Linked DNA regions of Homo sapiens: all the other regions are linked to region 3. Evidence: fine-mapped expression QTL. A gene starts in region 3. Each other region holds a variant in brackets. All regions are shown on one strand. Distances are between the middles of the regions. Region 1 has its middle 20 kb from the start of FAM225B. Region 2 holds the start of ZFP37 (ZFP37 zinc finger protein). Region 3 holds the start of ZNF883 (zinc finger protein 883). Region 4 overlaps FAM225B (family with sequence similarity 225 member B). Region 5 overlaps ZFP37 (ZFP37 zinc finger protein).

What was found.
Region 1: its variant is fine-mapped to the expression of ZNF883 in whole blood (TOPMed, PIP above 0.99).
Region 2: its variant is fine-mapped to the expression of ZNF883 in whole blood (TOPMed, PIP 0.96).
Region 4: its variant is fine-mapped to the expression of ZNF883 in whole blood (TOPMed, PIP 0.90).
Region 5: its variant is fine-mapped to the expression of ZNF883 in whole blood (TOPMed, PIP above 0.99).

What each region holds. Positions count from the first base shown.
Region 1 is chr9:113,088,105-113,094,664 of GRCh38, forward strand. No RefSeq gene overlaps it. Among named protein-coding and RNA genes, the nearest start is that of FAM225B, 20 kb to the right of the region's middle. The variant A/C (reference allele first, on the strand shown) is at 3,154.
Region 2 is chr9:113,055,720-113,062,279 of GRCh38, forward strand. It overlaps ZFP37 (ZFP37 zinc finger protein), which reads right to left and starts at 1,005. Exons shown (of 4, transcript NM_003408.3): 1 at 838-1,005. The coding sequence starts at 969. RefSeq lists an enhancer at 636-1,205. The variant G/T (reference allele first, on the strand shown) is at 3,450.
Region 3 is chr9:113,009,029-113,015,588 of GRCh38, forward strand. ZNF883 (zinc finger protein 883) reads right to left here and starts at 3,164. Exons shown (of 5, transcript NM_001101338.2): 1 at 3,122-3,164; 2 at 2,113-2,199.
Region 4 is chr9:113,098,261-113,104,820 of GRCh38, forward strand. It overlaps FAM225B (family with sequence similarity 225 member B), which reads right to left. Exons shown (of 3, transcript NR_024376.1): 3 at 6,463-6,560. Among named protein-coding and RNA genes, the nearest start is that of FAM225B, 10 kb to the right of the region's middle. The variant G/C (reference allele first, on the strand shown) is at 3,705.
Region 5 is chr9:113,038,486-113,045,045 of GRCh38, forward strand. ZFP37 (ZFP37 zinc finger protein) reads right to left here. Exons shown (of 4, transcript NM_003408.3): 4 at 1-5,783. The coding sequence ends at 4,240. Among named protein-coding and RNA genes, the nearest start is that of ZFP37, 15 kb to the right of the region's middle. The variant G/C (reference allele first, on the strand shown) is at 2,981.

The sequences.
Region 1 (6,560 bases), 79 kb after region 3:
GCCTGCCTCCTCTGCGCTCGTGGGGGCGTCGTGCTCTGCCGGACTCGGGCTTGTCGTGGCCTCGCTCTCCGGCTGGGGCTGGTCGTGGCTTGACCTTCCGCCCTCGGTTTCCGGTTTCTCTGCCGGGACTGCGAGGGGAGCCGTCGGGGCTTCTCCACCGTTTGTGCCTGGACGCAGAGGCCTCCCGGCTGTGCCCGCTGGAAGCTGCGGGGGAAGAGGAGGTCGACAGTGAGTGGGCCATGACCCGTCCGTAGACGGCTGCGGGAGGGTTGCAAGGGCCAAGCTCCCAGAGTGACTTCAAGGCAGGAATGGCTCTGCTCCCAGGTGTCCCCCACCCCCTCCTCTTTCTCCAGCTGCCCAAGACCTCCAGGCCCCACTCCCCTGGTCCCTTCTTGTCTCCTCACTCTGGCTGTTCCCCAGCTGCCTGGCACCCTCCAGCAAACCCTCCTCCGCGGGCGCACCCAGAGGATGGCCCAGCTGGCGGAGCCACCCAGCACACAAAAAGTCTGCCTTTCTTTGACCTTAGGTTTCCCCACCACCTGCCGGATCAGGGCCCGTGGGGCGGGGACCGCTGCCTTTGTCACCCCAGCTCTAACTCTCCTGCCTCCCTGGCCCCTGCCACCCCCTCCACACACCAATCCGCACAGACGAGACACTCGACCCTCACTCACCTCGTCCTCTCTCAGAACCCTCCCGGTTCTTGCGGGTCTCCATCTTCCCCTGCTTTCCACAGGGAGGTCTGTCTTCTCCCGTCTCCTCAAGGGACAGCTTCCCCATCCAGGAAAGAGCTCTGTGTTCCCGGCGAGGAGGCTCTACCCTCTGGCAGCCTGAGCAGCGCAAGCGGGGAAATGGCCGGTTGGGCGCAGCCGGCGGGCTTTGATAGGGAGCCAGGACCCCCTGCTGGGTGTTCCCAGGAGGATTGGCTGCGGACACGCCCACAGGCGCAGGCTACCTTGATTAGGTTAGGCGGGTTGGAGGGGTTCCGCTTTCTCCCTGGGTCCCTGCCGCTCTGTCTCCGGCAAGTGATGAGCAATTTTGCGGAGTGGCAGAACAGAGACAAAGGTAGCTGTGGGCTTCACGGTAATTTCAAAGGAAGTGCCCTACTTCGTTGCCCATTTCGAAGTCCTCTCTACCTCTGCGTTGGACGATTTCTCCACTTCCTGGTGTGCACCTGCGTGTGTGCGTGCCTGTGTGTGTGTGTGTGTGTGTGCGCGCGCGCGCGTGCTGGGGTGTGTGCACACTATGCCGAGAGTCGGGCAAATTTCGAGTGAAGGGAGACCGAGTCCCGCAGGTTCTCTTGCTCCTGCAGTCTGCGGAGGAAAAACTCCTTTCTGGCACGGCGGCAGGAATCCATCTACCGACGTTAGGAAAGGACAGGGTGTGCTTTCGTCCCAGCTTAGTTTTCTATGGAGAAACAGGCAGCAGAGGAGAGTGGGCCAGAGGGCCACATTTTGCCCACGACCAGCCAGGTTTGAGTTGGTTCCTCCTAGGCCTCACGGTCTGATTTTCTCCTCCCCTTTGTGTACCCGACGGGTGTTGCTGTGAGCTCAGGACCATCCCGGCGGGCTGCGGATGGGATCATCGTGTGTGTATGGCCACAGCCCTCCGCCTCGCTCGCTCGGTGAGCACGTGAATCAAGGAAGGGGCACACGACTCTAGGCAGGACCCGGCGGGGTGTGGGGAGGAGAAACTCGGTAAGAGAAGAGAGGGAGAGGGAGACGTGCGAGGCGCAGGCTGTCCCAGGCGAGTCTGAGAAACGGCGTGCGCGGAGACGTCCGCCAGAAAGCAAGCAGGCGAAAGGAAATGGAACATCCGCAGGGCCGGTGCCGTGGGATCCGGTCACGCCCTGACGGCTTTCGGGGACATCTCAGGCTCGCTGTCTCTGCCTTGGACCTGGCGCAGAGAGGAGTGAGGCCTGAGGACAGGGCTGCGTGGCCAGCTGGGTGTGGGAGGTGCCAACACAGTAAGGGCTGCTCAAGGGGTGGCCGGGAGCGATACGGGGGGGTTGCTCAAGAAATCACCGCTGGAACTGGGATCCAGTCATCCCACTTCTGGACGTATCGCCTAAGGACACGAAATCGGGTTGTGGTGCAAATATGTGTCCTGCTGCATTGGTTGTCGGCACGCTGCCTGTAACCAAGACGTGGAATCGACCGAAGTACCCTTCAGCAGATGACTAGAGAAGGACAAATGAATAGGGTTCGTAGAACAAACACATCAGGGAAAGGAAAGGAAAGCCTGTCATCTGGGACGTTATGCATGGACCCAAAAGTCATGGTGCCCAGTGAAATCAGCCAGGCCCATCCGACCCGTATTGCGTGATCTCCTTGTGATGTTGGATGGAGAAAATGCTGTGAGGATCAGGAAAGTAGAGAGGAGAAAGGTGGTTGGCTGGGCCTGGGGCCGGTGTAGGGGCAGGTGTAGGGGCAGGGAAAGGATGCCAATGCGAGATGTGGGTCAAAGGGCACAAAGTTTCCGAGAGACAGGTGGAGTGCTTCCTGGATATCCGTGGCAGGGCAACGTGAGTACGGTGGAGCAGAATGTAAGGTTCTCGTGAATATATCCACGGGAGTAGAGCTGAAAATTCTCCTGAGCGGGGACAGGGGACGCATGTGTGGTGATAAGTGTGTGAATTCGGCCGATTCTAGTGAATTCCCTAATGAAGACGTCACACACGGTTAGTGTGTATCATATTTATTGTCGTTTAAACTGGACTGATCCAGCTGCCGATGGGTTCCTGTGTTTATCTCTACAGCCTTCTTCTTTGCTTTGTGAGCACGTGAGTCAAAGAAAGAGCTCAATTGTCGGCAGGAATCGGGTAGAAACTCAGGAAGTTTGGGAAAGGAGATTCAGATATTTGGGGCCCTGCCTGTTTTTGGCAAGCCATAGAAAATTTGTTTCCAAAGAGCTGTGCCCAAAAGGGAAAAGCTGAAAAGAAATTTTAATGTCTGGAATGCTAGTGTCATGGGATTCATTCATGGTCTTAAGTCTTTTATATACATCTCAAGGGCCCTCCAAACGAGTCAGCATGGATTGTAGTGTGGCCTTTCTAGAGGGTTTGTTGTTCAGCTTGTTTTCTGAGATGCCCGGAAGATAATTATTGTCTAATATGGGGAGAAAAGGGCATCCTGGTGCAATGTTGCTGAGATAGTC[A/C]ATTAGGCCAGTGGTGGTAAGGAGCAATGTGGAAGCTGTTTAATTAATAATTAGTGGAACTGGGATCTAAGCATTCCCATCTGGGCATACAGCCTAAGGAAATCCATGTACACAGTAAATATGTACGAGATTATGTTGGTTGTAGGCTTTTTCTTTTTGTAAGGTACAAAATTTTCCTAGGCATCAGTGGAGACATAAAAAGGAATACTATTCACATTTTTAGTGGAAAATCTGTCATTTTTGACTTCATGAATAAACCTGAAGTTTTCCTGTCTAGTGGGCAATCCAGGCCTGTAATGTTGATATTGCGTGATCTCACTTGTATGTGGGATCAACAAAGGTGAAAATTATAGAAGTTTAGAGTGGATAGTTGGGCTTCATGGCCTAGGGCAGGGGCAAGATGGGCATAGGGAGATGTTGGTCAAAGGATACAATTTATCAGAAAGTTAACTAGAGATTTCTGGATATTTATGACATGGCAATGTGAATATAGTTATACATATGTATTGTACACTTGAAGATGGCTATGAGAGCAGATTTCAGAATTCTCAGCACAGGATTCGAAGCATGTGAGGTGATAAATATTAATTAGTTTGACTTAATTCCCAATGAAGATATAATTCATATATATATATGTATATATAACTATATATATTATTTTCTTTAATGAATCTGGGAAAAATATTACATTACCAACAAAGATGAGAATGAAAGAAAGAAACACACTAAAAAAAATACAACATTAACAGGGCTGATCTGCAGTTCATGTGTATTGATTTACCACCTGGATATTTTGATCTATATCTGAGGTTCTCTCCAGCTTGTCCTTCAATATTGTAGATGCACTGGTTGCTCTGTTGACCCCAAGCTGTCTACCTGAATGTCACCCATCAGCTTCAGCTGCTTTGTGCAGCGCTCTCATGGTTTCTATCACATCTGTCTTCATAAGAAAGAAGCAACTATTCCAAGACACGCAGTGGGACATTCGCCTTCCAACTTTTTCTCCAAAGTTTACCAAGTGTTCATCACTAGCTAGGGGGACAACTTCCAACTTTAGGTTAGAGTAGATGAGATTCTATTGTAAAAACTTTATATACCTCAAGGAAGTGTGCATTTTGGGGGAAATAGGCTGCAAACTTGATTATTACCAACATGTGTAGTCATCCCTCTTGCAAGTTGAAATGAATGATTTTTTAATTAATTGATTCTCTATATTAACTATATTTACTTTGTTTCTTCATCAGTGTGAGATTTCTTTTCAGACTAATAACTTGAAAGTGTGATGATATTCTTTACGCAGTTTGGATGACTGAATGATATTTAGGAATTGATTTAGGAGAGCCTGCTGAAAGCAGAAAGACTAGATATTTTATACCCTTGGAGGTTTTGGTCAAGCATTCCAGAGTCAGGCAGGGTGTGGTGGCTCATACCTGTAATCTCAACACTTTTAAAGGACAAGGTGGGTGGATTGCTTGAGCCCAGGGGTTCAAGACCAGCCTGGGCAACATGGGAAACCCAGTCTCTACAAAAAATACAAAAAAAAAAAAAATAGCTGTGTGTGGTGGCAGATGCCTGTAGTCCCAGTAGTCCCAGCTACTGTGGGAGCTGAGGCAGGAGGTTTGCTTGAGCCTGGGAGGTTGAGGCTGCAGTGAGCCATGGTCATGCCACTGCACTTTAGCCTGGACAACAGAGCAAGACTGTGTCTCAAAAAAAAAGTGGTGTATGTACACAATGGAAAACCATTAAGCCTTTAAAAAACACAACAGGAAATTCTGTCATTTGCAGCAACATGGATGAACCTAAAAGACCTTATTTTAAGTAACGTAAGCCAGGCACAGAGACAAATATATGACTTCACCTACATGTAGAATCTACAAAAGCTGAACTCATAGAAGTAGAAAGGTGGTTACTAATGGCTGGTGGGAGGTGGTTTCATGGAGAAATGGGAGATGTTGGTCAGTAGGTACAAAGTTGCAGTTAGGAGGCATAAGTTCTGGTGTTCTTTTGTACAGCAAGGTAACTATAGTTTGTAATAATGTATTATATATTTCAAACTAGCTAAAAGATGGGATTTTAAAGCTGGGGATGATGGCTCGTGTCTGTAATCCCAGCTACTCAGGAGGCTGAGGCAAGAGATTGCTTGAGGCCAGGGGTTTGAGATCCTATCTCTTAAAAAAAGGGGGGAGGGATTTAAATGTTCTCATCACAAATAAATGATAAATATTTGAGGTGACAGACATACGAATTACTCTGATTTGATCATTCCACAATGTATGCATGTATCAAAATATCACTTTGGACCCCACAAATACATACAATTTTTATTTGTCAATTAAAAATAAAATAAAACTAATAGTACATGAAAGAACTTTGAATACTTATTACCAAGTGAAAAAAAAAACCTGAAATGGCTGCATACTGTGTGATTCTAACTATATGGCACTCTGGAAAAGACAGAACTATGGAGACAGTAAAAGATCAGTGGTTTTGGTCAGGCGTGGTGGCTCACACTTGTAATCCCAGCACTTGGGGAGGCTGGGTTGGGAGGATTGCTTGAGGCCAGGAGTTCAATACAAGCTTGGGCAGCATAGTGAGACTCCCATCTCTCCAAAAAGTTTTTTAAAATTAGCAGATGTGGTTGTGTGCACCTGTGGTCCTAGCTGCTCGGAAGGTTGAGTGGGAGGATCACTTGAGCCCAGGAGTTTGAGGCTGCAGTGAGCTATTATTATGCCACTGAACTCAAGCCAGGGCAACAGAGTGAGACCCGGTCTCTAACAAAACAAAACAACCAAAAAGATCAGTGGTTGCCCTGGGTTAAGGGGAGGAAGTGATGAATAGGCAGAGCACAGGGCATTTTTAGGGCAGCAAACCTATTCTGTATGATACTATAGTGGTGGATACATGTTATTTTATATTTGTCAGAACCCAGGGAATCTACAACACCAAGAGTGAACCCTAATGTAAACTATGGGCTCTAGGTGATAATGATGTGTCAATTCAGATTCTCCGACTGCAACAAATGTACCACCCTGGTGAGGGATGTTGACAGTGCAAGGGCTGTATGGTGAGGGGAGGGGGGAATATGGGAACTCTCTGTGCCTTCTGCTCAATTTTTCTGTGTGCCTAAAACTGCTTTATAAAATGAAGTGTTTTTTAAATGAATATCCTGGAAACAATACCTATATCAATTAAATTAACATAGTTATATATTTCATTAATAATGAATATCTGCTGCTTGATTAGAATGAGAGTGAGAAATGGGTCCCAAACTCTCATATTTTTGTCTTTCAGCAGCAACTCAGAGACAAGAAGATGTTAGAGCTAGAGCTTGAAAAGGTCAGGTTTTGCTAGTCAACCCAAGACTTAATTTTTCCTTTCCAAGAAATTTCATGTCCCCAGTGGCTGAG
Region 2 (6,560 bases), 47 kb after region 3:
CTCCACAGATCTCCAATCACTGACCACCAAAGAACCCTCAATCATTAAATGCAGCAATCCCCTCAAACTCCTGACCCCCTTAGACTTCTAGTCACAGAATCATAGAGGATCTTCAATCATTAATTCCTACTAATCACCTCATTACTCAAAGCACAGTTATTACTGCTAGACACCACCTAATTATTGACCTGCATACATCCCCAATTACCTTTTCTCCCCAGATGACATACAAATCATCTACCATCCCCAGAGACACCTCAACATTGACTCCCCAAACTCCAACAGTCATATTCCCCCCTCACTGGCCCCCCGATTCCTCCATTACCCACTGACCCTCAAAGATACTGCTAATCAAACTTCCACAGACATCACCGTCACTGACTCCCAAGCCCCAATCTCTGATGCTCCCAGATGCTCCCAATCACTGAATTTCCCAAATCCTAACACTGACCCTCTTTGATAACCCAGGCTCTAACCACCACAGGCACCCATAATCGCTGGCTCCCATAGACATCCCAAACCGCCAACCCCCACGGTCCTTCCCTATCTCTGACACATCACAAAGCCTCCATTTCTGATCTCCTTCCAAACTCCGACACTCGGTGACTGCCACAGACGCCTCCCCATCATTGTCTCTGCAGATCCCTCCTAATACTGATATCCTAAAGCCAAATCATTAACCCCACAGATAACTCAGAACACCGACCTCCCAAAAGACCATCTAGCATCGATTCCACCAATTCCCAAATCACCTATCGTCACAGACTACTCCAATCACTGCCCCGCAAGTACACCATCTCTGACCGCCAAAACACCCTGTCTCATCACAGCTCTCACCGCGGCGCTGGCCTCGGGCTCGGACACAGCCATCTCCAGTGGTCGCCCGGCCTCTTTGGTCGTTTCCGCACTTCTCCTCCGGTCCACGGTCTCTGGCTTTGTCAGAATCTGGACGCCGCTGGAGACCGACATGGCGGCTACCCGGAGGGCGGCCTTAGCGGGTCCGGCAGCCGCGATGGCGGCGCCCTTCGGTAATAGCGCACGGGCGCGGCCATCTTGGCAAACACTCAGCCGTACAGCGGAAGTGCGGGGACTTCTGGGACAATTAGATCGGGAGGTGGAAGCTGGCGAGGGCGTTACTTGCAGGATGCAGGAGTGATGCGATCAGAGCCAGCCGGAACCGAGTTCCGTTACGCACTACAGGACTGACCTGGGCCTGACAACCCACTGCCGGAGTTCGGATCGCATCACTGCCGGAAGATATTTTACAGAATTTGGAATTGCTTTTCCGAATACATGTCAGTGCGGCCAGCGGCTAGAAGTCCGGGAATCACAACGCTTAGTGCGGACTTTAGAAAGGCAGGATGCGAGAAATTGGAAGCATAACGGAGAAAAGCCTGATCGAACAAATAACATTATTTTATAGGGAGAGGACGTTAATCTTTGAGATATACGATAAATCTTTTCATATATAGTATAAGAACAATAAGAAAAACTGAAACAGAAACTTAAGTAAACACACCACTCCTCCGTGAGAGCCCGGGTTTGGTGAAGATATTTCACCAGAATAATCAAGCACTTGGAGAAATAATTCCTTAATGCGCCATTTCATGCATTAATTGCATTCATTGAATATGTGCAGGTTAGGTGCTGCGCTATGCAAGGTACTGGAAAAAGAGTGGAGAGGGGTAGGGATGATGTAAGTCCAGAGTCCAAAGGCCAGAAAACCAGGGTCTCCAATGTCAAAAGGCAGAAGATGAATGTCCCAGCTCAAGAAAAAAGAAAAGGTGGGAGGGAAGTGGGGATACTTAACGGGTTTTTAAAAAAAAAGAAAAGAAAGAAGGAATAAGACCTAGTATTTGATAGCACTACAGGTGTATATATCCAATAATAATTTAGTTGTACATTTCGAAATAACAAAGTATAAATGGATTGTAACACAGAAGATAAATGCTTGAGGGGATAGATACCCCATTTTCCATGATGTGATTATTGCACTGTGCATGCCTGTATCAAACTACTTCATGTACCCCATAAATATACTCACCTACTATGTACCCACAAAAGTTAAAGATTAAAAAAAAATAGAAAAGAGGATTCACCCTTCCTTTTCCTTTTTGTCCTTTCAGGCCCTCAGTGGATTAGGTGGTGGCCACCCACATTGGTGGGGGCTTTTTTATTCAGTTTGCTAATTCAAATGCTAATCTTTTCCCAGAAACACACTAACAAACCCAGAAACAATGTTTCACCAGTTTTCTGGGCATCCTTTAGCCCAGTCAAGTTGACCGATAAAATTAACCATCACCCTAACCATGATATACACAGACTTCCAGGTTACAGAATCTGTGAGATAATAGGTTTGTGATACTTTAATCCACTAAAGCTGGTGATAATTTGTTATCCAGCAATACTAAACTAAGGACTCAGTGAAGACTGAAAAATAATTGATGGCTTGAAATTACTCTTCACCTACTTAAGACACGGCCCCCTACACTGTGTTCCTGACAGAGTATTCTTTGAGCGTCACCTTTGTACGGATAGGCAATTGCTTTGTTTCTGCCTCAGATATGGTCCTGACTTTAATTGTTCCTGATATTAGAGTCGTAAAAAGGTACAATATTTTTTTCAATACCTCTCCTTTCCTTTCTTCCTCACAAATCAGAAAGAGGGGCAGTTCAGTTTCTCAAGGATTTTCTTGAAACCAACATATATATACATAATATATACATATATATACATATACACATATATACACATGTATACATATATACACATATATACATATATACATATATACACATATATACATATATACACATATATACACACATATATATACATATATACACACATATATATATACATATATATACACATATATATATATGTGGTAGGGATGAGTTAGTACGGAGGATCAGAACATAATGTTGTACTGTTGAGTATATTCATTCGAGTAGACCTGAAAATTCTCCCGACAGGGACAGGGGAAGCAAGTGCGGCGATAACTGTGTGAATTCGGCTGATTCTAGTGAATTCCCTAATGAAGAGGTCACACACGGTAAATATGTATGGTATTTATTGTCATTCATACTTGAAGGCACCGGGAGGGGAAGAAAATATTAATCAGGCAAAAAAACGTAAAAGAGACATTACTTCTATGAGACTCTAGCATTCGTAGGAACACTCTCTGGTTCACAAGGATTGACCGAACACCTCGATATGTGGCTCTCCATCTGAGGCTTGCTCCAAATGGCCCTCCACTATTCCAGGCACGTGGGTGTCTCCCCTAACTCTCCCTGCTCTCCTGAGCCCATGCTGCCTATCACCAATCAGTGCAGGTCCTTTCTGAAGAGCTCGGGTGCATTCTCTCCATCCCACCTCTTTTCCCAAGAAAGAAGCCACCTGTTCCAAGACACGAAGTGGGACATTCCCCTTCCACCTCCTTCTCCAAA[G/T]TTCCCCAGGTGATCATCACAGGGTAGGGAGACAAGTTCCCAGATTTCAGTTACAAGACATAGGACGCTGGCATGAACACACACACACACACACACACACACACACACACACACACCTCGAAGAGGTAGCCACAAGGGTCATTAAACACATGACGACTGATTTCCAAAAACGTGGATGCAGTTCATCCTTGCCAAAGCCGAGGGTGCAAACGCGGAATGGCGGAGAGATTCCAGAGGCTCACCAAAACCTGCCAGGAATATTTTCCTGACCCTGGGGGCAGAGGTTGGAAATATTGAGGACATTTCTTGGGACACACGAAGAAGCTGAGGGACCAGGCATTTTCCTTTCCACTACGAATGACCTACACCGAGGGCATTTCACTTTCCCCTGGAAATCCCCTATGGTGAGGTACCGCCCCAAGCCCCCACCCCCACTTCCGCGAATCCACGTGGCTCAGTCTCTACACGGGTGTCACTCCAGGTAGGCTTCTCAACGCTCTCGGCTCAAAGGACAATCCCACATCCAAACGCAAAGCCCACACCTCATCCCTTCCCAGAAAACGCGCAAAAATTCAATGGGAGAGAGGTCCCGAGTCATCAAAGTCCCAGATGTGGTGAGCCCCCGGAAGGAAAAACGGTGTCGTCCTTAGGATGTCCGGAACAAGAGCTAGGCTTCCGGAGCTAGGCAGCCATCTATCTCCGTGAGCCAGCGGGAGGGAGACCGCCGGGAGGCGAAGTGGGGCGGGGCCATCCTTCTTTCTGCTCTGCTGCTGCCGGGGAGCTCCTGGCTGGCGTCCAAGCGGCAGGAGGCCGCCGTCCTGCAGGGCGCCGTAGAGTTTGCGGTGCAGAGTCGGGATCGCCTCTGGGGCAGAGGGTTCGAGCTTTTCCAAGGCGAGGGTGCTGGCTCCCGTGCGCACCTAAGGCCCCCCAGGAGCGGGCGCAAAGGGCGGCGGGCCCGCGGGCCAGGGCCCCGCAGCCAGCAGGCTGTCGAGCGTGGCCAGCGCCCAGTGCAGGGCGGCCCCGGCGTGCGCCAGCTGCCAGGTGAGCCAGGCGCGCTGCGAGGCGCTGGGCTGCGTGCCGCCGGCGGGCCCCGGGAGGAAGGCGCCCCCCGGGGCCCGAAGCTCGCCCAGGGCCACGTCCAGCCCGCCCAGGTGGTTGACGACTCGCGAGAGCGGGCACGGGAGGGAGACCCAGGCTTCTGGGGAGTGGCGTCGGCGGCGCTTTGGGGAGGTGGGTCGCTCCTCCCGGACGTCAACGCGGCGTTGCGGGCCGCTCGTCCTCCCTGGCGATCTAGGCCGGTGCTTTGGCTCCTCCAGGCGCCTCGGGCTGGGAACAGAACCTGCGCGGGAGACAGAGCGGGAGGTGTCAGAGGGACTGCGCGCAGCGCTAGGGGACCCATTTCCAAGGTCCCGAAGCCGCTCCCGACCCCGCCTCCCCCTGCCCTCCATCCCCCACCCCTCCGCGGCTCGCCTCCGCGCCCCATCCTCTCGGCCCCTCCCTGCATCCTGGGGACTCCGGTGCCCCGTCCGGGGTGCCCTCCCCTCCGCCCATTCAAACTTGAAGCACATCTCATCTGGGGCCACCGGGGGCCCGGGTTCCTGGCGCACTGAGGGCTTCCTCGGCCCCCTCGGGGCCCCCCACTCCCCGCTCCCCTTCCCGGGGCCCTGCGCCCTCCTCCCCACCCCTCCAAGCTCCCAGCCCCTAAACCTGCCTCCTCTGCGCTCGTGGGGGCGTCGTGCTCTGCCGGACTCGGGCTTGTCGTGGCCTCGCTCTCCGGCTGGGGCTGGTCGTGGCTTGACCTTCCGCCCTCGGTTTCCGGTTTCTCTGCCGGGACTGCGAGGGGAGCCGTCGGGGCTTCTCCACCGTTTGTGCCTGGACGCAGAGGCCTCCCGGCTGTGCCCGCTGGAAGCTGCGGGGGAAGAGGAGGTCGACAGTGAGTGGGCCATGACCCGTCCGTAGACGGCTGCGGGAGGGTTGCAAGGGCCAAGCTCCCAGAGTGACTTCAAGGCAGGAATGGCTCTGCTCCCAGGTGTCCCCCACCCCCTCCTCTTTCTCCAGCTGCCCAAGACCTCCAGGCCCCACTCCCCGGGTCCCTTCCTGTCTCCTGACTCTGGCTGTTCCCCAGCTGCCTGGCACCCTCCAGCAAACCCTCCTCCGCGGGCGCACCCAGAGGATGGCCCAGCTGGCGGAGCCACCCAGCACACAAAAAGTCTGCCTTTCTTTGACCTTAGGTTTCCCCACCACCTGCCGGATCAGGGCCCGTGGGGCGGGGGCCGCTGCCTTTGTCACCCCAGCTCTAACTCTCCTGCCTCCCTGGCCCCTGCCACCCCCTCCACACACCAATCCGCACAGACGAGACACTCGACCCTCACTCACCTCGTCCTCTCTCAGAGCCCTCCCGGGTCTTGCGTGTCTCCATCTTCCCCTGCTTTCCACAGGGAGGTCTGTCTTCTCCCGTCTCCTCAAAGGACAGCTTCCCCATCCAGGAAAGAGCTCTGTGTTCCCGGCGAGGAGGCTCTAACCTCTGGCAGCCTGAGCAGCGCAAGCCGGGCAATGGCCGGTTGGGCGCAGCCGGCGGGCTTTGATAGGGAGCCAGGACCCCCTGCTGGGAGTTCCCAGGAGGATTGGCTGCGGACACGCCCACAGGGGCAGGCTACCTTGATTAGGTTAGGCGGGTTGGAGGGGTTCCGCTTTCTCCCTGGGTCCCTGCCGCTCTGTCTCCCGCAAGTGATGAGCAATTTTGCGGAGTGGCAGAACAGAGACAAAGGTAGCTGTGGGCTTCACGGTAATTTCAAAGGAAGTGCCCTACTTCGTTGCCCATTTCGAAGTCCTCTCTACCTCTGCGTTGGACGATTTCTCCACTTCCTGGTGTGCACCTGCGTGTGTGCGTGCCTGTGTGTATGTGTGTGTGTGTGTGTGTGCGCGCCCGCGTGCTTGGGTGTGTGCACACCATGCCGAGAGTCGGGCAAATTTCGAGTGAAGGGAGACCGAGTCCCGCAGGTTCTCTTGCTCCTGCAGTCTGCGGAGGAAAAACTCCTTTCTGGCACGGCGGCAGGAATCCATCTACCGACGTTAGGAAAGGACAGGGTGTGCTTTCGTCCCAGCTTAGTT
Region 3 (6,560 bases):
ATCTTTCACCTGGATGATTGCTTTAGCTTCCTAGCCAGTATCCATGTCTGACCTTGCTACCCTATACTCTATTCTCAACAGAGCATCCAAAATTGTTCCTTTAAACTAAGTCAAGTTATGTCACTTCTCTATTCAAAACCCTATGAAAATTGGTAAATTATATGTAAATCTTAATAGAGCTGAATAAACAATAACACCGAACACCATCACCTCCTACGTTTTCTCTTCTCATTCAGCATAAAAGCCAAACTGGCTGTGGCCATACTAGCCTGTGTGCTGTGTGGTCTGCACGCCTTACCTCTCTCATCTCAACTCCTACTGTGCTGCTATCACTCACCCCTCTCTGGCCACGTGGCCTTCCTGATGCTCCCACAAAGGTTAAGCACATCTGCACCTTGAGGCTTTGCATTTGCTGTTGCTTCTGCTGAGGAACTTAATCTCCCTAATCCCCCTCCCCTCCCCAAGTATCTACAAGGCTCATATTCCTTTTTTTTTTTTTGAGACAGAGTCTTGTTCTGTAGCCCAGGCTGGAATGCAGTGGCGTGATCTCGGCCCAGTGCAATCTCCACCTCCCAGGTTCAAGCGATTCTCCTGCCTCAGCCTCCCGAGTAGCTGGGACTACAGGCGTATGCCGCCACGCCCAGCTAATTTTTGTATTTTTAGTAGAGACAGGGTTTCACCATGTTGGACAGGATGGTCTCAATCTCTTGACCTCGTGATCTGCCTGCCTCAGCCTCCCAAAGTGCTGGGATTACAGGCATGAGCCATCACGCCCGGCCCATATTCTCATTTTCTATAATGTCATCTACCAGTGAAGCCTTCTCTTACTCCCCTATATTAAATAACAGCTGTCCTATGCCTTCCCTAGCCCCATTACTCTGGTATAGTTTCCTCTATTCATCACTATGAATGATGTTCAGTAGGTTAGGTGAATTAGTACATTTTTGAATTAATATTTTCAACTTACACATTTACTGGAATGTAACCTCATGCTCAGTTGAGGAACATCTGTGTTTACATTATTGTCTGTGTGCCCATCCAAGACTGTCAGTTCCACATAGGCAGAAACTTTGTGTTATTCACTGTTATATCCCAATGCTTAGAACATTAGCTGGCAAAAAGTAGGTGCTCAATGAATATTTATTCAGTGAGTGAAAGAAAGAAAATTTTCCCTCCCTCTGGACAGAGGTGATATTTCAGGAAATAAAAAATACAGCAGAGCTGCGTTACAGACACACATGTATATTTTATTTGTACAAATCTGCCCAACAGGCTCAAGAAAGTATGTTATCTAAAGGTAAGAGTGAGATGGGAGAATCTCCTGTTTCCTCAGTCTCACTTCTTACAGCCCTCTCGTAAGTGAGCATCTTGCTATGCTGAGTTATTTTAATGTTTAAAGAACATAGTCGGGGTACATTTACACATGTATATTATTGCATGGTTGTATACACATTACATGTGCATACACGTTATGAACTATTGTTCATAACAATGTATTCTTGAAAATTGCTATGAGAGCAGTTTAAGTGCTCTCACCACAAAAAATGAAAAGTACGTGAGGTGATGCATGTTCATTAGCTTGATTTAGCCATTCTACTACGTATACATATTTCAAAACAACATGTTACACATGATGAATATATAAAATTTTTATTTGTCAGTTATAAAGAAAAATTAGGCCGGGCACGGTGACTCACACCTGTAATCCCAGCACTTTGGGAGGCTGAGGTGGGCAGATCACGAGGTCAGGAGTTTGAGACCAGGATGCCCAACATGGTGAAACCCCATCTCTACTAAAAATACAAAAATTAGCCGGGCGTGGTGGTGCACGCCTGTAATTCCAGCTACTCAGGAGGCTGAGGCAGAAGAATCGCTTGAACCCAGGAGGCAGAGGTTGCAGTGAGCCAAGATCGTGCACTGCACTCCAGCCTGGGCAACTGGACGAGACCTTGTCTCAAAAAAAAAAAAAAAAAAAAATTGAGAGCAAATAATGAGCAATAAAAGAGATTATCAAGGGACGTTTAATTGCATATGATTTTTCCACACTGCAAGATGGAACTTTAGAAATTAAACCCAGCTTAAGGTACAAATGCCTTGAAAAGTTTTGCTCACCAAAGACCATGTAGTCAGGGGCCAGTGGTCAGGTCCTTCTTCTTGATGCCATCTTATATAAGTAAGTAGAGACCTGAGAAAGCAGAGCTGAAAAAGGAAAGGGGCCCTGAGAAATCAGGACTGTCTTTATGAGAAGCCTGTCTGACTACCTGGATATAACCCACACCCTCTGTAAAAATGTCAGAATGAATCTAGGAACAGATTCTTTCCCTGCAGAGTACAAAGTGAAAGGCCACTTACATTCCTCTCTCTGGTCACTGGTCCAATCTGACAAACCAGAAACAGGGCTAACTTTATCCTCCCATGATGGGTGGCACCGAGTGCACCAGCTCCCTCTTTGTTTGTTAACAATACTTGTAAAGCATATACAATTTTTCGAAGTGCATTCACAAATGCCATCTCAAAGAACAAACAATTGCTCTTCGTCGCCCGCAGAGTGTAGGGAATCAATTCCACAGTTCTTTATAGAAGAGACTTCAGAAATTTACCAGTAAAACGAAACAAGCTATCTCTAGAGAGGAGGTGAGTTTCTGAGGAAAGAGCAAGAACTGGATGTCGGGAAACCTAAATTCTAGTTGGCACTAAATACGTATATCACGGTTTTCTTGCAATTCCCAGGTCTACCTACCACCAAGGTCTGGGGTGGTTGCCCCTCCCCAGATAAACTGCCCCCCATCACAGTCAAAGCAAGGCCCAAAAGCTCTGAGCTCTGTTCTCATGACTCTCCAACCCAGAAGAGAACCCAAGCCCCTGACTGTTAAGGCTGGGATGAGCAGACACGGCTTTGCCTCCTCCTCACCCTGAAGCGGGATGCTGGCCCAGGTCACCACCACCCCTCCACTGCAACGTGAACCAAATACCCAGCCTGACCTAATCGGCTTTCCTCCGCCCCCGGGCCCGGCCAATGCATTCTCAGGCCTCTCCCGACCCGCCCGAATGGTTGTGTTTGAAGGGGACCTCTCTCCCCACCTCCCACACGAGTGCAAGGGTCGGGAAAGAAAAAGCTCACCTGCTCCACCGAAAAATAAAGAGCACGGTCGGGCGATGTGGTTCCCAAGCCAGGAAGTACGCCTGCGCACGCGGCCGCCAGGAACTACATTTCCCAGCATCTTCTGCAAAGCGCCCTCTTGAGCTGCGTCTTTCACCGGTGTCTTTCTAATGCTTTGCGGGTTGCGAACGTGCGTCGTTTCCATCGTTGTTTACATGAAAAGAAGAAAAAAGGAAAAGATTTTTTCTTTTGCTATAAACAACTGTAAATCCAAAGAGATGCAAAGTTTGCGTTAACAACACCCCAGACACAAAAGTAATACCTATTCACTACATTAATAGATGATTTATAAATAACTCTTTATTCAACAGATAAAAAACCAAACTACCCAGATGGATTCATTGCAGAAATATTTATTAACGCAGTGATTAATATTTTTTAGCATTCTAAAAGTAAATCTCTGATTTATAGCTAGCTTCTTTGTTATGAGTGTGTGTTGAGGGGACGGTGGCGGGGGGGCGGGGCGGGCAGAGACAGGGGGCAGAGAGAGAGACAGCGAGCAAGCACCAGAGAGATTCCATCCAAGAATGAGGTCATACTTTTGGGGTAGATTTTTTTCTAGCTTTTTTCTTCCTGTTAGGAACTTAGGTTATGATCCCTTCAGTGCTACCAAAAATAGTATACTGATGAACATCCTTGTAGAGTAATCTGTTCACTCCTCCACATCTGTTCTTGACAAAAACGTCCGAAAAACGAATATAATGAAGAGGGAATATGTATATCTAACTTTTTTCTTAAACAAACGAATATAGATAGATAGACAGATTGTAGATAACAGAGAATAGAGGTAAGGAAAAAGAACAAAATTAGTCAGATAAAAGTTCACTCCAAGATACTCCCTATTATATATTTAAATATGTAATTTCTATGCATATATATACAAATTCTGTATAATTAGATATTCTCAAGTATAAAACTATACATACTTTAAAAAATTGCTTTATTGAGCTATGATTGATATAACTGTACACAGTTAATATACACAACTTGATGTGTTTGGAGGTAAGTATATATACCTGTGAAACCATTAAGCCATCATGCCATCAATCCCATAAATTCATCTATCACTTCCAAAAGTTTCCACCCCTTTGGGCTTCCCCCACCTTTTGTGGTAAGAACACTTAATGTGAGATCTACCCTCTTTACTTATTTTTAAGTATATAATACACTATTGTGAATCATAGGCTCTTTATGGTAAGAAGACATCCAGATCTTATTTATTGTGTATAAATAAATACTGAAACTTTGTACTCTTTGACCAAAACCTGCCTATTTCTCCCTCACCAGCCCCTTCACCATTTTACTTTCTGTTTCTATGTATTTCCCTATTTTTGATTCCACATATAAGTGAGATCATGCAATATTTGTCTTTCTGTGCCTAACTTCTTTCACTTAGCATAATATCCTCCAGTTTCATCCATGGTGTCATAAATGACAGGATTTCATTGTTAATAAGGCTGAATAATATTCCATTATATGTATATACCACATTTTCTTTACTTGTCCACCAATAGATATTTAGGTTGTTTCCATATCTTGGCTACTGTGAATACTGCTGCAATAAACGTGGAAGTGCAGATATCTCTTTGAGATCCAGATTTCCATTCCTCCGGATATATACCCAAAAGTGAGATTGCTGGATCAAAGGGTAATTCTATATTTAGAGGTACATTTATATTGATTTCCATAGTGGCTGGACCAATTTACATTCCTACTAATAGTACACAGGGTTTGTTTCCTCTACATCATCTGTTATGTATTTATTTTTATAATAGCTATTTTAACAGAAGTATGGTGATAACTCATTGTGGTTTTGATTTGCATTTCCCTGATTACTAGTGATACTGAGCACTTGTTCATATACCTGTTGGCTATTTGTATGTCTTCTTTGGAAAAATGACTATGCAGATGCTTCACCCAATTTTAATTGGGTTATTTGTTTTTTGCCATTGATGCATAGGAATTCCTTTGTCAGGCAGATATTAACTCTCTGGATATTAACCTCTTATCAGATATATGGTCTGAAAATATTTTCTCCAAAAAATAAATTCTGTTGGTTGCTTTTTTATCTTTTTATTTTGTTGTTTCTTGCTGCGCAGGAGGGTTTTTGTTTTTTTTGTTTTTTTTTTTTTGGTTTTGGTTTTTTGATGGAGTCTTGCTCTGTCGCCCAGGCTGGAGTGCAGTGGCGTGATGATCTCAGTTCACTGCAACATCCACCTCCTGGTTTGAAGCGATTCTCCTGCCTCAGCCACCTGAGTAGCTGGGATTACAGGTGCACGCCACCACACCCGGCTAATTTTTGTATTTTTAGTAGAGATGGGGTTTCACCATGTTGGTCAAGCTGGTCTCAAACTCCTGACCTCGTGATCCACCCGCCTCAGCCTTCCAAAGTGCTGGGATTACAGGCGTGAGCCACTGCACCCGGCCAGTGCAGGAGGTTTTTAGTTTGATGTAATCCCACTTGGTATAATCCCACTTTGGTGTCATATCCAATAAATCATTGGCCAGCACAATGTCTAGAATATTTTCCCCCATGTTTTTGTCTAAACGTTTTATTGCTTCAGGTTTTATGTTTAAGACTTTAATCAATTTTGAGTTAATGTTTGCATGTAGTATAACATAAGAGTCCAGTTTCATTCATGTGGCTATCCAATTTTTCCAACACTATTTATTGAAGAGACTATCTTTTCATCATTGTGGGTTTATTTCTGAGCTCTCTATTCTGTTCCATTTGTCTAGACGTCTGTTTTTATGCTAGTCATACACTGTTTTGATTAATGTAGCTTTATAATATATTTGGAAATTAGGGAGTATGATATTTCCAGCTTTGTTAGTCTGGCTCAAATTTTCCTTGGTTATTTGAGTCTTTTGTGGTTCCAAATGAATTTCAGGATTTTTTCTGTAAAAAAAAAAATGCCGTTGGGATTTTACTAGTGATTGCACTGTATCTATAGGGCACTACTGGAAGTATGGACATTGCTATGCTTTGAATCTTTGTCCTCTTCAAAACTCATGTTGAAATTTAATTGCCATTGTGACAGTATTGACAGGTGGGACTTTAAAGAGGTGGTTAGGTTGTGAGAGCTGTGCCCTCATGAATGGACTAATGCCTTTATCTATCAAGAAAGTGCGTTTGCCACGTATGTTTATTGCGGCACTATTCACAATAGCAAAGACTTGGAACCAACCCAAATGTCCATCAATGATAGACTGGATTAAGAAAATGTGGCACATATACACCATGGAATACTATGCAGCCATAAAAAATGATGAGTTCCTGTCCTTTGTAGGGACATGGATGAAGCTGGAAACCATCATTCTCAGCAAACTATCTCAAGGACAAAAAACCAAACACCGCATGTTCTCACTCATAGGTGGGAATCGAACAATGAGAATACTT
Region 4 (6,560 bases), 89 kb after region 3:
GCAGGTCACAGATAGCTTGGAAAACCAAAGAATGTGGTGTGGTTTCATGATGAGCAATTTGAGGCAATCCACTTCCATCTTCTCTGAGTAGCCTGTATCTCTGGGCAGGCCCTGGCAGCCTGGACCAAGGATCCAAGGGACATCAGGCCATCCCCATGCCTCCTCAGGCTCTGTTTATAAGGTTTGTTTCCTCAAGTCAGCCAGAGAGTTCTCCTCCATCCCCTCCTCCCAGCAACATTTCTCTCAAGAAATATTTTCACCCAATTAGAGAAAATGTATTGCTGCTCACAGTATAGTTCCTCTGAAGAGTCTTGTCTCTGTTTCTCATTTACAGTGGTAGTCATTCTTACCATATATAGCTGTTTCTCCTTAAAGAAAAGTGGTTTCTTCTGTCTTTGCCATGTTTGGAGAAGTTGGGTGTATCTTAAGACTGGGCTTAGAGAAAAGAAGTCAAGTCCAGCTCTTACTGATGACTTGACTTCTTGGGTTAGGGAGGGGTTTTGACAGTGGCATCACACACCTCCCTCTCTCCCAGGTTCTATCATTTGTTCAATGAATACCTCCTTTCTAATAAACACAAAACCCAACTGGACAAGTGTTTAGAGGCTTAAATAATGAGAATAAAATCTGTTAAAGAACAACCCTCACAATCTAGACTTATGCTCTCTGCTCCTTCATCATACTGAACTGTATGCAGACATATGGTGTTATTCTTGGGGGTGCATAGGCACCACAGGGCCACAAGTGTCCTACTCAGCCCTCAGGCAGGGCAAGGGATAAGAAACTTCACACATCTCAATGTGGAACTGGAGTTTGGGAGGCTTGAGGCCCTGAGCTCAGGGGATAAGGAACAATCCTCATGACCCTAAATACATTGGTGAAGAAGAGCTACCTCTTGCACCCAAGATCCCATCCCTTTCCTGATTGAGGCTGGGGAGATGCTTCCCAATTCTTAACATAGCCTTAATGAAAATATGCAGTTGACTACCAACTCCCCTTGACTCTCCCTTTGTGACAGATTCTGGAGTATCAAGGAAGGAGAAATCTTGGCTCTATTTGTGGATTAGGAAGTGGGCAGAGGAAGAGGCCAGAGGGAAGAGGAAGGGTAAGGTCTTAGCAAAGCTGAGGGTGAAAGAACTTATTATTACTGGGCTTGGGAAAGACAAAACCAACACACTCCCCCCAAAAAGTGTCCATGTATTTTCAAGTACACTGAACTCATTCTCCAGCCACTGAAAGCTAGCTGGATTCCCTCCCAGGGACATGAAAATCAGCCTATGGCTGGGCCACCTTGCCCAGTCTCTCATCCACCACAAAACAGCTCAACTCTGAAAGTGTTCAAGCATAAGATTATTTTCCAGAAAATAGTGTTTTGTGAAAGCTAGAAAAGGTAGCCACTGTCCAGTGGCCACAGAGATGGGTGAGCTTCAAGGGGACAGGTTTTGGGGGTTATTGCTAAGGTAGGTCATCAGTGGAGATAGCAAGGCCAAGGAACAAGTTATGTGCTCCTTAAGGATCTTCTGTATATCTGGGGTTCATCTATCTTAACACAAACTTGGAACTCAACATCTGGGAAAAGGGAAGCCCCTCCCTATAGGGACTCAACATGGCGCCTGGCTTGATGACAAAAGGCAAGGAAATCAAATAATCTTCAATAATGAGATGGTTCACAGGGCACCTGCACAGTGCCTGCAGGCAAATAGGAAGATATTGGGGTTTGAGTGCCTAGGAAGGAAGAAAACCAGTGAGGAGAAGAAAGATTGACCCAGCCGGTGGAAAATATGGGAATATTTTCATAGTCACTAATTATGGCATTCTCTCTCCTGCCAAACACACACACAAAACCACACACATACATAAACTCACACACGCTGACCTAGTTTTCCTATTTGCTGTGACTGGCAAGGACTCCATAGAACATAATAGTGCCATCTTGGCCGAAGGGTGTGTGAGCTTGTCTTGAACATAAACACAATGTCGGTATGGATGTTTTTGTGCTTGGACATTTCTTTGTGGGTAAGTGATATTTTTGCCTTCCTTACCGCCATACTTTATTACAAATGTGTAGAATGTTGCCCATGGTGTTAATAATTCATCCAAGAGGGTTTAGGTGCTCCCTATCATCTCCATGTGCTTGATACAGTCCTGGGAGCTCCCCTCCATGGATTCCTACAGGCCATGCATTTTATGTAGGTTGCTCACTGCTATCTAGTGAGCATCTAGTATCCCCAGCATCTAGTGCTTAGCATTTATGTGGTACTCAGGAACCACTTAGGAAACCAAATGACCGATGGGAGGTGTATCTGGGGATAGGGCTTGCCCATCATGTCTTGGGATGGACCCATCCTAAAAGGGGAGGGAAGGAGGCCTGATAGGCATCCAACTCAAACTGTCCAGTGGAGGTCACTAAAGACTTCACTCTGGAACATGAGCTCTGCCTTCATGGCTTCCAGAAGACAAGAAGTAGAAGTGTAACCTCACAAATTAGGTCCTGGAGGACACTTCTGGGTTACTAGAGCTTCTTTCAGCCCTTTCTGATGGATCCCCCACCTCTGCCTCAGTGGGCAGTGATTGGCCTTGTGAGTCTTTGGGGGGCTGCTGTGTTCAGAAGTGACCCTGGGCCCTCAGAATCTCATGCATGCTGTGGCTTTAGAATGTACTCAGAGAGGTGTTGACTGAGCTGGGCCTGCTGCAGATGCATGTACCTTCTGTGGTGTAACTCTGTGGAGATGAAAATAGTAATAGTAATAACAATAATAGTAATACTATTAACTACTGTACAAATTTTCCATGGCCACTGCAATACCACCACAAACTTTGTTCTTAAAAGAACACCCATTTATTATCTCACAATTCTGTAGGTGGATTCAGAAGTCTGGATGGAATCTACTGGACACTCTGCACATGATCCCCAAGGTTGAAATCAAGGCTGCAGCTATTTGGGCTCCTGTCTGGAGATTCTGGGGGAAAATCAACTTTGAAGTTCATTCAGGATGTTGGGAAAAATCAAATTCCTTACACCTACAAGTCTGAGGCAGGTTTTCCTTTTCTGACTGTCAGCTGGGAGCTGCCATCTGCTCCTCTGGGCTTCCTGTATTCTCTCTAACATGGCTGTCTCCATCTTCAAAGCAGCAACAACTTGTGGAGTCTCTAACTTGGAATCTTTCTCTGCCAGGCAGAGCAAGCTTTCCGTTTTTAAGGGCTCGTGTGATTAGATTAGGCCCACTGAGAAGATCATTTTCTGTCAATGGATTAGTAACCTTAATTGCATCTGCAAAATCCCTTTGGCTACAAAATGTAATATAGTCAGGGAAGTAACAATAGGGGGCAGAAAGATATGATGGAGACCAAATTCAGCTTGCTACCACTCGAGTCCATTGAGGTCACTCCATGTACTGGCCTCAAAGCCTTCAGCTTGAGCCTGCAATTTTATGTTATAAAATAAAACTATTATACATGTACATGAGTACCTTTTGTTCTCCAAAATATAAATTCTAAGAAATACTATCTGCAAAATAAACATATAAAAAGAAAGTTCAGGCCGGACGCAGTGGCTCACGCCTATGATCCCAGCACTTTGGGGGGCCGAGGTGGGCTGATCACGAGGTCAGAAGATTGATACCATCCTTGCTAACATGGTGAAACCCTGTCTCTACTAAAAATACAAAAAATTAGCCGGGTGTGGTGGCACATGCCTGTAGTCC[G/C]AGCTACTTGAGAGGCTGAAGCAGGAGAATTGCTTGAACCAGGAGGCGGAGGTTGCAGTGAGCCGAGATTGTGCCACTGCACTCCAGCCTGGGCGACAGAGCAAGACTCCATCTCAAAAACAAACAAACAAAAAAACAAATTTCAATCAATCTGACTAATTATTGAACATATTTTTATTCCTTTGCTGCTAAGGTCATCATTAGTTCTAGGCTTTAGTGAATATACCCATGCTTACATACATACATTTCAGTTGATTAGGCAACTTTAAAATATATGAGTCGCCAGAGTTTGTAAAAACCATTTTGCCACTTTTTCATGAGAACCTAGTTCTCTTCTTACTTTTCATTGAGGAAAATATTCACATTTTATAATGCTCACCCAGTAGGCAATAAAAATTGCTGTGTGTTTCCTATTTATCCCTATCTGAGTGGGGGTCTTTATCATCATTACCTTGTCTCCACAATATACACAGAGCCACATCCAGCCACTATGGGGAAGAGTACACATGACCAACCCCACGTTCCAGAACACTGATGTGGATGCATTACTAGATAATACTTTGGCTGGCTCCTAACATCTTCTTTGGAGATATAGTGAATGTGCTCTACCTGAGGGGGAAAGAGAAACATGAATTTTGGTGACCTAAAGACCACTCTGCAGTAGAGTCTATGCTATATGTTCACCAAGCCCAATTCACTTTCCCCTTGGACACAGCAAAATATTGCATCCCTTGCAGTTAGTTGGGGCCCCATGAGTGAGTTTGCTCAATGCAACATGAAGAAAAGTCATGGATGCCATGTTTGTACTTGGCTATATATATTTTCTGTATGCAATCCTCCTGTTTCTCTTCTCCATCTGTAGCAACAATGGAGACTACATGTCAAAGAAAATGTAATCATTAAAAATAATTTTCCAGCACCCGCCACATTGACATATAGAACCCATTCTAGCTCATTCATAGCCCACAATAGCAACTAGGAATTATCTGTTGTATCCCAGGCAATGCTGTGAAAACTATAAGCAAGACCCCCTTCCTGGATACATCTGGGACTCCGTTGCTCCCCTCCAAGGTTTGATCAGAGAGAGTGGTAGTGAATACACTTCTATCCCATACCTTTCCTCTTCTATTTCTCTCTGCTACTGAGACTTAGCCCAAGAACCAGAATGGCTTTTAACCTGTTTTCTGATTGATAAGAACTGCCGCTATTGATATTCTTTCTTCTATGTGTGCAGTGGGGTAAGAAATAGGCAAGAGAACCATGAAAACAAAGTAAGATTTCAAAGCACAGGAAACACATCAGGTTAAATTTCAATTTTTTTTCAGCCCAGTAAGAACAGAAATATAGTGATTAATAGTGAATCAATGGGTCTCTTATAAGCCAATGTATAAGATTTTATTCATAGGATTATAGGAATCCACTGATGGAAATAATATGACTTGTACTTTTAGACTAAATGTATATCTGGCTTTATTCTTGGCCCACACTGCCTGAAGAATTAAGTACAACATTAATGTCAGTTCCTTAAGAAGGGTCTGTAGAAATTAGATGATGACACAGAATACATGCAGTATCTCCCTTTAAACTTCCCCCAAAGTTCTAAGTCATAGGAAAAAATAGCTTCTACTCTCTCAATTCTTATTGTAAGAATTCTTACTGTTACATGTAAGAATGTAAGAGACCTTGGGTCCTAGGACAATGCCTGGAAAATAAGATCATGGAAAGAACAATGGCCAATTGAGAGTAAATTAAACCCAGAGCAGACAGGACAGGCACAGGAAGCACACCATCCCATCCAATCACTCCCTCAAAGCCAGGTACAGAACGCAGGCCTGCAGTCTCCATCAAGTGTCATGTTTTTTTGTTTGTTTGTTTGTTTGTTCATGGAGCATACAAAACTTGAATATCTAACTACCATTTAACTTTTTATCCCATTAAAAATAAAGGGTTTTTTTGTTTTGTTTTTTGGAGATAGGGTCTCCCTCTATGCCGTCAATGTTTTTAGAGCCTTCCACGTGGTTCTGATGACGCAGGCTCCAATTTGAGGAGGCTGAGGAAGGATGCTTAGACGGGGATGAGGGAGGAACTGCATTTACAGGAGGTCATAAGCATCCGAAGACAAGTCTCTATAGCAGGATATATTTATTTTCTTTTTGCTTCTAATTTTGAAATAAAACTACTTCTTTCTTTTTTTTTTAAGATGGAATTTCGCTCTTATTGCCCAGGCTGGAGTGCAACAGCGCTATCTTGGCTCACTGCAACCTCCACCTCCCAGGTTCAAGCGATTCTCCTGCCTCAGCCTCCCAAGTAGCTGGGATTATGGGTGCCCGCCCCATGCTCATCTAATGTTTTTTGTATTTTCAATAAAGATGGGGTTTCACCATGTTGACCAGGCTGTTCTCCAACTCCTGAACTCAGGTGATCTACCTGCCTCGGCCTCCCAAAGTGCTTGGATTACACGCGTGAGCCACTGTGCCCAGCCAAAATAAGACCATTTTTATGTGTATATAATAATGCATAAAAAACAAATTTTTAGGAAAAATATGCTATTTTCTTGTGTGCACATATTTTATCCTAAAGATATCTTACCCAAAATCCCAATTCAAAAACTAAATCCCTACAGAAAAACTGAAGCATTCTCCATCATTCCTGTTGAGGAAATGTTATTAATACCCATATTATCTTTGTTATTTTTAAACCATAGTATTTTGCAGAGAACCTGATTATATCCCTTAACCCTTAACTGAGAACAAAAATATTAATTTTAAATGTTCATTACACATTTCTTTTGAAATTTTCAATGGCATAGTGCATTATTAATCTGCATAATATTTCACAATGGTAGTATCTATGCAC
Region 5 (6,560 bases), 29 kb after region 3:
AGAAATTAAAGATTTGGCCAAATGTGGTAGCTCACACTTTTAATCACAGCACTTTGGGAGGCCAAGGTGGGCAGATCACTTGAGCCCAGAAGTTTGAGACCAGCCTGAGTAACATGGCAAAACTCTGTTTCCACCAAAAAAAAAAAAAAAAAATTAGCTTGGTGGCATGCACCTGTAGTCCCAGCTACTAGGAAGGCTAAGGTGGGAGGAGTGCTTAAGCCTGGGAGGTAGAGATTGTAATGAGCCAAGATTGCACTACTGCACACTCCAGTCTGGGTGACAGAGACTTTGTCTCAAAACAAAATAAAACAAAAAAAGAAAGATTCAATTTCCTCAAGCCACCTGAAACTAGGTGTGGTCATGTGACTCATTTCTGGTCAAAAGATATGAGCACATTCTTCTAGAAGGGGGACTTTGTGGAAAATTTTAATTTTCTTCAATATTGGATTACTCACTTGATGCCTGGAGATGCATCACTCAAACACATTCCTGAGAGTAAAAGTAATAATAAAGAATTATTTGTATCTTCTTAAATATAGTTTGAAATTGTGGTTTTTAATGTCATATTACTCAATTTTTGAAGGAATCATGCTTTATTTAATCAATTAACTAGCAATGTATATGCTATTTCTCTCTGTTCTGCAATAAATATCATAGTACGCCTTGATTGTACAACATAGAATAGATTCCTCGATGGACTGCCGACCATCATAAGGCTTTGATGTATACTGTCAGATTTACATTTTGGTAGGTTGTACAAACTTACACAACTACCAAAAGCAGTGTGTGACAGATTGTTTTCTACCTATCACAAATGTAATTTTTTTTTAAATCTTGATTTAAAAAAATGTTTCCACTTTTTTTCCTCTTCTTTATGTCAGAGGAGTTTAACATCTTTCTCTTCCCACACCCTCAGATTCTAAAAGATATATCCCTGGAATGCTCTTCCGTCATATATATATACATGGTTTGCTCTTTTACCCTCTCTGGGTCTTTGCTTTTGTCACCATCTAAGTAAGCTTACTGCCTGCTTCCCATCACTATATTTAAAATTACATTCCCCAACACTTCCCTCCCCTTCCTTGGTTTGCTTTTTGCCATCCAGTGATCTGTTATACTTTATATTGTAGTTGTTTATTTATTACCTATGTCCTCCTCTAGAATTAAGGTCTATGAGAACAGGGTTTTGTTTTGTTTGTTTGCTTTCTTTTTGTTTTGTAGACTGCTGTATCTCAGGCACTTAGATGATCATATCACTTGAATAAATAAATGTTTCAAAACTGTTAATAATAATTTACTTTTATGCCCCTTCATTTTCTTAAAGAGGATCTGAAAAACAGTTTAAAAATAATTTTTTAAACTTACTTACACCATGATTTAGATTAGTGGTTCTCAAAGGGTGGTCCCCAGACCAGCAGCACAGGAATCCACTGGAAACTTATTAAAATGCAAATTCTCAAGGCCCACCCACAGGGTTTCTGATCCAATATGTCTGTGACGAGGCCCAAGAATTTGCATTCTCAAGTCTGTGTTTTAACAAATCATTCAGGCAATTTTTATGCACACTAGAGTTTACGTATCGATTCAGACTTACCACTGTGTGTCTGTTTTCCTATACTAACCTCCAATTGTATTTAGACATCCTTTCCTCATTCATCAATGCTAACTTTTAATTCATTTTATTACTGCACAAAGTGGCTTTCAGCATTCATTTATATCATTCAGGCATACCTATAATTCTCACTGTCTCAGATGTGGCAATACTATGGGTTCCCCAAGACATGTGGAAATTCAACATAGCCATAACCTGCAACTGTTTCATCCATCTAAAAAGTGCAGGCTTTCTACAGCTCTAGACAGTGATGACTCATTCTGTGCATAGTGCTATATTTCCACTTGTTAAGAAATTACTGGTAGAAATGGCTTTCATATTGCATTTTCTTCCCATGTGATAAATAAGTTACTTGGAAATGAGGGGATATATTCATGAGTTGAGCTTTCAACCCGTGCATGTGTATGCATGTGTGCACATGCACATACACGAACACATATTCCATTCTCAATATATTATATTAACACATTATAATTCTCTGAAATGAGGTCAGGAAGGAAGGAGCTTGAATGATAAATATTTGTAAAGATGGCATTTAAGCACATATTTCTTTGGGGCCCATTATTATGCTAAATTACTGTCTAGGTGAAATATTTACTCAACAGGATTGAACATGACTAGACAAGTCCCGATTACTGCTCATATGTTAGTTCTGAGGAATAAATGAAATAATGTAGGGATTGTGCTTTAAAAAATATAAAAGATAACATGCCAAATTATAATATTTTATATTATGTAAATTAATATTGTATTAAAATAAAGGTATGATGTTTTTGAAAACCATTTCTGTACTTATGTCTCTGCTTTTAGTGTAACAACTTAGATTTCAAAATAGTTCAGAAGTTTTGTGCATTTTTTGTATTTCTTTTTTTTGAGACAGAGCCTCACTCTGCTGCCCAGGCTGGAGTGCACTGTAACCTCCATCTCCTGGGTGCAAGCAACTCTCTTGCCTCAGCCTCCTGAGTGGCTGGGATTACAGGGATTACAGCATGCCCAGATAATTTTTTGTATTTTTAGTAGAGATGGGGTTTCATTGTGTTGGCTAGTCTGATCTCAAACTCCTGGCCTCAAGTGATCCACCCACCTTGGCCTCCCACAGTGCTGGAGATTACAGGCACCCACCATGCCCAGCCAGAAGTATTTTTAATCTATGGCTCAAGAGTAAAAAAAATCCAGGTGTGCAATGGCAAATAGGTCTCCTGTGACAGTCCAAGTTGATGCATAGTACCTTCTGGAATGCACGCTGCACAATGATTCTGAGGCCAACTCTGGGTTCACTCAGAAAGAGTACAGTGATCCAGTAAATAATGCCCAATATTGAGCGAGAACAGGGAGGGGTGACATTTGTTTCATTCGAATTCCCTGATT[G/C]AGGTGTTTGTGTGTTAGTTCTTTGAATATGAGATAAAACAGGGTGATTATTCATAAAATCACTTTCATTCACCTGCAATCACAATTCATCATCACCTGCAATCACAATTCAACATCAAAAAATGGCAAATGTAGAAACAGTGCTGTTATAATTCACTATGTTAATGAAAGAACTTGTGTGTGATAGAAAAAGTCTTTATGAATTCAACATCAAGTTTCATACTATATACTTTAGATTCATCATCATTCATGAATAAGCATACAAAGATTTTAACTCTGTCAAAATCTGAGATCTCACATGTTGATCTCACATGTTGTGGAGGGGCTCAGTGACAACCTTAAATAATGTTGATTTATGCATATTAAAATATTTTAATTATAAAAATAATACATGTGCATGATTTAAAAATCCAAATATACAAGGAAGTCTTGCTCCTATCCTAGACCCCAGTCCTATACTCCTCTGCCCAATGGCAACCACCATGAAGTTTATTCTGTATTTTTTCAAAGTCTATTCACATACAGATACATGTATATATGCATACAAAGATACATACACATACAGAGATAAGAGACAGAGGTTAAACAAACATACCCTTTTGTACACAAAGGGGAACATACTATATACATGGTTCAGCAACCTACTTTTTCACACTTCACAATATATCTTGAATATCGCTCCCTACCAGCACATTTGTATCCTCAGCTGCTTTATTTTCTCTCATTTTCCTGTTAACATTTTTTACATATATAACAACCCTTTTAAAAAGATTTCTGCTGATGCAGAAGCCAACACAGACATTAAGAAAGAGCTGGGTGAAAATGTCAAAGAGGCTTATACAGATGGCCACACTCATTTACATAAGGCAATAAACAGATATGCAAATTCAACTCTAATATATGGTGCTTAAGTACAAAACAAGAAGAAACACAGGAACTGTCAGCATATATAACTTGTTTCTCCATTGCTTTGAATATTCAAATAATTCACAATTTTTAAAGCTTTCAATTTCAATCTGAACATGTAGATCATTTATAATAATTGAGTAGTTAAAACAATATTTTTTATAAAAGGTTTTGTATCAAGTTTAAACCCTTGTTTCCATCCACTGATTCTATATGAAGATCCATTTTCAAAGTTTCTCATGTACAACAAGGTGTGACATCTTGCTAAAGGCTTTCTAACACTCTTTAAAATCAGCATATTTCCAAGGTTCAACAAAACCTTAAATTTAGTTAACAAATTTCCCACATTAACTTCACTCATGAGATTTATCTTCTGAATGAGTTTTCACATGTTTGGTTAGGGATGCATTTTGTTTGAAAGTTTTCCCACATTCATTACATTCATAGGGTTTTTCTCCAGTGTGGGATCGCTGATGTATAACAAGCTGTGATTTTGCATTAAAGGCTTTTTCACATTCGTTACATTCATAAGGTTTCTCCCCAGTATGAGTTCTCTGATGTACAATGAGGTGAGACTTTTGGCTAAAGGCTTTCCCACATTCATTACACTCATACGGTTTCTCTCCAGTATGAACTCTCTGATGTTGAGTAAGGCCTTCAATTTGTTTAAAGCCTTTCCCACATTGATTACATTCAAAGGGACTTTCACCTGTATGAGTTCTCATATGGTAAGTAAGAGATGAGCTATGTCCAAAGGCTTTTCCACACTCATTACATTTATAAGGTTTCTCCTTAGTATGAGTTCTTTGATGTATAATGAGGTGTGACTTCTTGCTGAAAGCTTTCCCACATTCATTACATTCAAAGGGTTTCTCACCTGTATGAATTCTCATGTGTTTAGTAAGGGATGAGCTATACTTAAAGGCTTTTCCACATTCATTGCATTCATATGGTATTTCACCTGTATGTGTTCTCACATGTTCGGTAAGAGATGAGTTATACCTAAAAGACTTCCCACATTCCTTACATTCATATGGCTTCTCACCTGTGTGAGATCTCACATGTTGAATAAGGTTTGAGCTGTGTCTGAAGGTTTTCCCACATTCAGCACATTCATAGGGCTTTTCTCCAGTATGAATTCTTAGATGGTCAGTGAGTGCATGTTTATGACCATGGGCTTTGCCACACTGAATACATTCATATGGTTTTTCTCCGGTGTGAGTTCTCTGATGTACAACAAGGTGTGACTTTTGGCTAAAGGCTATCCCACATTCATTACATTCATATGGTTTCTCCCCAGTATGAACTCTCTGATGGTCAATGAGTCCTTGTTTATGGCTGAGAACCTTTCCACATTGATTACATTCATAGGGTTTCACACAAGCTTGAGGTTTTTCATGCTTAGTAGATGAGCTAAGGCTGGGTGATTTCTCATGTTTCTCTCCAGTTTGAATTTTGTCCTGTTTAATATGGGATGAACTATGACAGCATAATTTGTCATGTTTTTTGCCAGTTTTGTTACACTTATCAGATGAGCTATGGCTGGATAATTTCTCATGTTTCTTTCCAGTTTGCTTTTTGCCTTTCCTTGTATCAGATAAGCTATGGTTGAATGACTTCTTGTGTTCTTTAGCTGCATCAGATTTCCTTTTTACACAGTTTCTTGAGTGATCAGGTAAATCTAAATTCTGTTTCAAAATTTTTCCACATGACTCAAATTTAAGAAGCCTTTTCTTTGAAGGAACATGTTTTTTATGCAAATTATTTTTTTTCCCCAGTGAACCACAGTCACTGCCATTCTTCTTAGCTTGAGTTTTCTTCTTGACTGCAACTTCCCTGAGGAGTTTGTTTTGAGATTTCTGGATATTTTCAAGCTGGTCATCATCTTTCTGGACTTCTAAAATGGAATTCAGTGAGATATTCTTGTGAATCTTTGTACTCTTATATTTTGGAATAAAACTGGTAAAGAAATGACCTGTTGTAGGGTTAAATTTTTATTCAAGCCTGGTATACCAATGTGAATGAAACAACTAGGGTGAATGGACTTGAGGGGGAAAATGTTGTAGTAAAAAGAGGTGGGAAAAGTGACAATAGTGATTTTTTAAAGTTTTTGCTGCTTAAAAATATGAGTGAGCAACCTGGGATAGAAGATGAAATAAACACAGGGAGAAGTGAACAGGGAATAGATGGAGTTAAAAGAGCTTATGATTGTAGCTGATACTTTTTGAGGTTTCTTATAAGCCCAAGCTGCCCAGTTCTGATAACTCCCAAGCTGGCCATAATATATTGCTCCTGCAGCCTATACTATATTACCCCAATTCTCCATGGGCACAGTTGGAGACAAATCTGACTCAAACCAAGATGTCCAACAAGATTCTTTCTTCTAACAAATTTGACTCCAGTTAGTCTCCACTTGGTACTTAAATTTAGAAATTATATAAAGCAGGTACTAGTAAACCATATTTTCTCTACGTAAACAGAAAGCTCGTCAAGTCAAAGTATGAACCATCCACACACCGAGAAGCAGAGACATAAGAACTGCGTCTTTAAAGAGATCATTTGCACAATTTCAATTCCCAATGGCTTCCTAGTTCCTTCCTAGTTCCTATTTCTAGTCCCTGGTGAGGACTGGCTGAACTATCTTGCCCTTAGCTTGTAAGGGATGTACCCAGGT